Homo sapiens: one gene and its partner. The protein of the gene in region 1 purifies or fractionates together with the protein of each later gene. This does not show direct contact. Each region holds a gene or a part of one and is shown on either strand. Other genes may lie near its edges.

Region 1 (3,500 bases):
GCCTACTACATACCAAGGTTATATGGTGTAGTCTATTGCTCTTAGGTTATAAACCCATACAGCATGTTACTGTGCTGAAGACTGTAGATAATTATAATACAATGGTAAGTATTTGTATGTCAAAACATAACTAAACATAGAAAAGGTACAGTAAAAATGTAGCATCATAATCTTATGGGACCACCGGGACATATACGATCTGTTGTTGACTAAAATGTCACTGTATAGATGATAGATGGATTTTATACACACACACACACACACACACACACACACACACACTCTTCAAATTCTCCTTTGAACCAGTTTTAACATCTTAATGATTCCCTTACTAGTTAATCATTTAAATAAAATATTTTACTTGTATTGATTTTATAGTTGTATGACAGCCATAATTTTATCTTTCTGAAAATTTCAATTTAGCATTATATAATGTCTTTGGAAGGAAGTTAAATATAAGGAACAAATGTTAATAATTATACTCACTATCTTTAGAGAAGGTTAATTTTCTGAAGTATTTCAGGATCATATATGTAAAACAATATTATGTTTAGATGAAGGTACACATTAATCTTTTTATTAGTTGTGAAAAAAATTCAGGTACTTTATGCACAGAGAGTTGAGTTGTAGAACTCTAATTCGGCAGAGAGGAGTAAAAAGCTCAATATTTAAAGACAGAATTCCACTTATGTGAGTCATCTTTTGTTTCTGCAAATTATTTTGATAAACCACGTGGTTTGATAAGCCACATGGTTGTAGAATCATACACCTCAGGGCAAGACCAGAAGGACACAGGCATGATACAAAGTTAAACTGTAAATGAAACTGGAGTGTTAGGAAGTGCAAGAAATCAAAGAAGACAAAGGGCGATACAGGATGTAGCCGGATGCTGGAGACTTAGAAGAGATGGTCTCTTAAAATTCCCCAGATGGGCAAGCACAAGTTAATTACAAGTATTGACCCTAACATTCACTTAAACCTACACACATCCTTGAGTTTGTGGTACTGCACGGAGTGAAGGGATGAGAGGTGGTGGTGGTGTCTGAGTGGGAGCCATAGTGAGAACTAGAGACAGCTTACGAAAAAAGGAATGGCAAAGGCTGAAGTGAGAACCAGAGGCAGGAGCTTGGAGCCTGAGATTAGAAGAAATAAACCTGACACCAAAGAATTCTCAGAGATATTGGAAGGAATGATAGATTTCTCCTAACATGAAAAATGGAGTTTCAGGGCAATTTTTTTCTAAATCTTTAAAGACAAGATGATTGCAGCAAGCTAGAGGATTTGAACAAACTCAAGAGGCCTGCATAACTTTCTTACTGGGTAGATACATGTGAACTTTATACACGTATAATCTAACTTTACGCATATACACATGCATATATGCTATCCACACCAACATCATTATTGTAGCAAGAAATCAAAGTGCAAGACAAAGTGCAGTGAATATACCTTTTATTCTTCTATGTTTTTTAACTTTAAAATTATAGGTCAGTTATGCAGCATAATTTGAATGAACTGGTTCTATATGTTTACATTGCATACATAGAGACATGTAGAAAACCTAAACAATTTAGCTTAAAACTTTATAATTTTTATGTTCAAGGTACTTAACCAATATGAGGAATTTCATTAGATACTAAAATATTCATAAAACCCAAACAGAGACCAGCATTTTTAATTTAACTGATATCCTAAAACATAATTTTGGTTGTTGAATTTCAGATTCAAAATATTATTAAAAAAGAAGAAAACAAATGGTAAAACTGCCCTAGAAAACTAAATGATTGTGCTGCTAATATGAATAATATAGTATTACTAAACTTGACTTCATTTGAAAAGAGATACAAAGACTTTCTGAAGGTAGAATGTTCCAGTAAGTTTGTTACTCAACATGCAAGTGTATATAGTATTTTGCATGAATCAAAAATATGCCTGAGCAATGATTCTTTATAGCCAAGAACACAGTCTGTATATGATGGCCCAAGTGTTAGGTATTCTATTCCCAGGGACATGTCCACTGTGCTATTGTGTAATACACAGGTATTCTGTGTATGGCAACACTGCTAGTGCAAGCTCTGCTTTTCAAGGAGAGAAGAAAGGGCTCTGCCAGTGATGTAAGAATCCTATGAGAAATGGAAAACACCAAGGGCTATACAGGGGTGCTTTGTAGATGAGATAAACCTCTAATGGATTTGATTGGTAGAAGCAGAAGAGAAAGTCCCTCACTTGCTATGTGTTCACTAAAAGATGAAATCGTAGCCAGAGGAGTTGCAAAAAAAGATGTTTCCCACATGGACTAAGAAAGATGGTGATGGAAATCCAGCTTGGTTCTGAGCAGAGTTTCTGTGTAAACCCACCTTGAGCTAAAAGGCATTCCCCTCCCCCTTTAAAGTATCTTTAGGGAATAATTAGCTGTCCAATCATTGGTAAGTCCTAATATATTTGGCTGATTTTTTTTTGCCTGGCCTAGGGCACCTCTATATTTTTATCAATAGGGTACAATAACTAAAACTGAGGAAAACCTATGATTTCAGCTTTCAGCATGGCTGACCATTGGCTCCCATGCCATCGCTCTTGTTTCACCAAGAATGTGGTTCTTCAGAGTTGGCCTTCTAAGAAAATTTATAAAACTGGAGAACCTTATAATTGCAATTTTGAGTTCATGCCCCTCATTATTACCCTAGAGACTGGGATTCTTCGAAGTTTAAGGATTGCCAGGAATCACACAGGCAGGGCTAGAAGCCATGGCTGTCTGTACACTATGTCTCAAGGTCATGCTGGTCAGACCATGCTTGGTTCAAAACATGAACCTAAGGGCATGATACTTTACACTTGTCACTGGCTTGCACTTAACTCTTTACTTGCATGCCTGCCCATATGCATCTTTTTCTAAGAAAACATTAAACCATAGTATACTTTAAGTCTCTGTCAACATTTTGCTCAATCTTAGGTAAACAGACAAAGGATTACTATTCCACACTACACTTATTAATTGATATGAAAAATTATTGGGACCAAATGTATTCATTCTGTTTAACACTTAGAGAAAAAAATATCCAATATATATCATAATAAAACATATATGAAAATTTTGTGAAATAATAACTCGATGTTGATATAGTTAAGATTTTATGTCAAATATTTCTAAATTTGCCCAAATAACAAATGTAAGAAAGATGTTTTAATGCTGACTTTATATTTTATACTAAAACATGAGATCCTTTTCAGAGGAGATCTTCTATAATATTACTTTCCTATTTGGTTATTAACCTAAATGACGTTATTCGACTGGATTTCATATGTGTTGCAGGTCCTGCTGGGAAATCATAAAACTGGGCTCATTTAGGAAGAGGCAACGTGGCTATATCAGAAAAGCTGCCATATGTGAAACCTCACTTTCTGCCTGTTGAAATTTTTGTATTTCAGGTCTCCCAGGGACATGTCCACTGTGCTATTGTGTAATTTTATCAGCATGAACTTCTGCTGAATATTTTTCCTTC
Region 2 (3,500 bases), on another chromosome or scaffold:
GTGAGCCAAGATTGTGCCACTGCACTCCAGCCTGGGCAACAAGGGTGAAAACTTTGTCTCAAAAAAAAGAAAACACAAAAATAAAATAATAAAGTAAAGATTGTTGACAAGAGATTTCTGTAGGGAAAAGCTTCTCCACATGGAATGAGAAGCAGCGCAGGGTTCTGAAGTGTAAGTAAACACTTATAGCTGCCGTCCCATTGCTAAGTGGCTCAGAGATGAACAGGTGGGCCTGTTTCTCAGAGTCTGGATTGGGTTTCTAATGGTTTTTAACACCATGGCCTCCCTTTTTGTTCTCAATTCAGGCGGACCCTATGGATCTTTAGGAGTAGATTATGAGTTCGAAAAACTTCTGTATAAAATATTTGGAGAGGATTTTATTGAACAATTCAAAATCAAACGCCCTGCAGCCTGGGTTGACTTAATGATTGCGTTTGAGTCTCGCAAAAGGGCGGCTGCCCCAGACAGAACTAACCCGCTGAACATCACCCTGCCCTTCTCCTTCATTGACTACTACAAGAAGTTCCGCGGGCACAGTGTGGAGCACGCCTTGCGGAAAAGCAAGTGAGTTGGGCTCATCACCTCGGGCTCTGGACATTCTAGCGGGTGGATCGTGCTGATGGGAGAGAGGAGCGAAGTGTGGACTTCGGGTTCCAATCCTACACACTTGCTGTATGACCTTGGGCAAGGGACTCAACTTCTCTTCCCTCAGTTTTTTTCACATGGAAAATGGGGATAATAATTCTATGTAACTCCAAGGGTTGTTGTGAGAATGCAATGAATTCATACATGTTGGGTGCTTAGAACAATGCCTGGGACCTGGCAAGTATTATCTATGTGTTTGCTAAAAACAGAGGAACTATGAAAGCAGCGAAGTTTAGTTTTGGCCCCTGCCATATCCCCAGTGTCTAGAAGAGAACCTGGTATGCAGTAGGTGCTCAATAAATATTTGTGGAATTAATCCAATGGGAATGTAGGTTTCTTGCCACTCTGAGTCCCTTGACTGATTTTGTGTCTCAGCTTGTTGCAAAATGAATATATTTAGAAGACGGTTTAAAGCCGAATTTAAAAAAAAAGATAAAAATAATAGATTTCTAATATTCTTAAACATTTTAAATTTATATATATAATATCCATCATGAAATGATGACTACAGACAGATTTACCTATCTATCATATTTCATAATTACCTTTTTCTAATAATCCTTTTGTAAGGGAACATGTCAAACATTTATCCTGTAAAATACCCCATTGTCCAGCTTCAACAACTGTCAGGTCCTGGCTAGTCTAAATCCAATTATTTTAAAGCAAATCTTAGAAATTAGCATCTCATCTATTTCAGTATGTACCTCTAAAGGAGACAAGTTTTAAATCACAACCACAATACCACGATAACACTTAACAATTAATAATTCCTCAATATTATCAAGTATCTAATTAACATTAACATTTTTCCATTTGTCTTTTTTTTTTTTTTTTTCACTTTGTACCAACATCCAAATGAGGGCTCTACATAGCAGCTATCTGATACGCCCCTCGAGTCCCACTAATGTACAGGTTCCCCTCCTGGTTTTTCCTTCACAATTTATTAGATGGCAAAACTAGTAGTTTGTCCTTAGATTGGAGTTTCCTATCATCTGGGCTTTGCTCATCTCACGTCCGTGGTGTTACACAGCAGGTTCTATCCCATAGCCTTTTTTTTTTTTTTTTTTTTTTTTGCAAGTTGGCAGATGGACTTAGAGGTTTAATCAGATTCAAGTTTGAATCTTTGGCATATCTGCCTTACGGGTGGTGGTTCCTCCTACTGCATCCCATCAGGGGACACGAAATGTCTGCCTGTCTCTCCTTTTGTGATATTAGCAGCCATTGATGATTATTGCCTGGTCCACTAATGCATTAGGGGTGGCTCCATGGCCACCATCTTGGTCCATCACTCCTTCCTCATTTATTTAGCTAGAATACTCCTAGAGAGAGAAACTTGGCTCCTCAGTGGTTTGGTTGCCCTGAACTACAGCTCACTTAGGGAAGACAGGATAAATAGGTTGGGTTTCAACCTCCATTTATGAGTTAAAAAAAAAAAAAGAATCAATTTCCTAGTATCCGCCAAAGTAGCTAATGAATTTTTCCTTTTGTGAGGGCATGAGGGGGAGTATCATTAGGAATTTGAGGATTTAAGCATATTTGATGTATTTTAAACAATGGCAATTCTATCCTTATTGACACCCACACTGTCCCATCTCGGCCAGTAGGAGCCTTCTCACGTTGGCTCTGAATCCCTTTGACATGACATTTGTGGTGGTTGACAGTGTCTTTGCCTCCTTGTATGTGAAGACACTCTTGGCTCATCTTGTACATTCCCTACCCCAGGCCTGGAATTGGCCATTTCCCTAAGAAGCCCTGGTTCCTTTTAGTGGAAGTGAAAGCAGATTTCATGTCAGGTCTTCTTGCCCTTGGAGCAGGGCCAGTCTGGACCCTCTTACTGGGCTGATGTTCTCTGCCCCGTTAGTCCCCCACAGAGGGCACCTGTCCTCTGTTTGGAATCCCAAGACCTACCTGCACAGTTCTGGGGCCTGTCAACCCTCCCACTAAGAAACAGGCTGCAGCCAGCCATGGGGTCATTCCATACCACACCACATTGTCCTTTGGCCTACGCCATGGAAAGGATTCCTTACCAACATGTTCTAGATTCCCGTCCAGCATCTAGAACATGTTCCTGGGAAGCTGCTGGTGTGCACTTTGCATCAGGGACAGAGGCGCCATTTGCTTGGCCTCTGAGAACAGGAGGGGCACGCCCTGTGGGTTTGGGGAATACACAGTCCCTGGCATTTGCTTAGTGCCAGAAAGTTTCCAGAGCGCTTTCACAGACATGGTATTTAACTTCGTCTTTACAACAACCCCCGTGAAGGAGGTAAGGCAAGCGCAGTTATCCCTGACTTCCAGACGTGGAGACTGGGCTTGAAGAAAATGGAGTCTAATCTGCCCAAAGTCCCAGAGCTCCGCAGTGGTGGTGGCCAGGCTAGAGCCCCACAATCCTGGATTCCCGTCCAGGACTCTCTGCTCCACACTGCTGCTTCTGGACAGAGACCGTGAGGGCCACCTAGTAGAATTAGGCTTACTCTGTCACCTGACAGGTGCCTGGAAGGCTGAGGACATGCACCTGAGCGCACACATGTGTAGCCGTAAGTAGCAGTACAATAAACTCGCCAGGGAGCTTTTAACGTGCTTGAATCCAAATATTGTTGGGTTCAAAGTGTGGTCCTGCGAAAGAGACAGTGAGCCCTTTATCTCCTTGTCTTTGCACTAGACTTTGGCCTCCACTATCCCAGGGGAAGGTCGGTCACAGCCAAACTTAAGATACAGAGAAGAGATTATGTCTTAGCTTTTGAGCTTCTAAGGGTCCAGGTCCTGGCAGTTTAGGGTTTCCAAAGGTGCTTTTGGCTTTCAACCCCCTTTCTGCCTGCTAAGAAGTGACAGATGTTCTGCCAGGGCAGGTGTCTATG

Evidence for each region.
Region 2: the proteins of MACROD2 (region 1) and HSPA12A purify together in Homo sapiens (affinity purification with mass spectrometry; one large-scale study listed by BioGRID and IntAct). This does not show direct contact.

What each region holds. Positions count from the first base shown.
Region 1 is NC_000020.11:15,990,016-15,993,515, reverse strand, and holds part of MACROD2 (ADP-ribose glycohydrolase MACROD2), read right to left. Parts: intron 1-3,500. UniProt on the Homo sapiens protein: Removes ADP-ribose from aspartate and glutamate residues in proteins bearing a single ADP-ribose moiety. Inactive towards proteins bearing poly-ADP-ribose.
Region 2 is NC_000010.11:116,676,567-116,680,066, reverse strand, and holds part of HSPA12A (heat shock 70 kDa protein 12A), read left to right. Parts: intron 1-305; coding exon 306-564; intron 565-3,500. UniProt on the Homo sapiens protein: Adapter protein for SORL1, but not SORT1. Delays SORL1 internalization and affects SORL1 subcellular localization.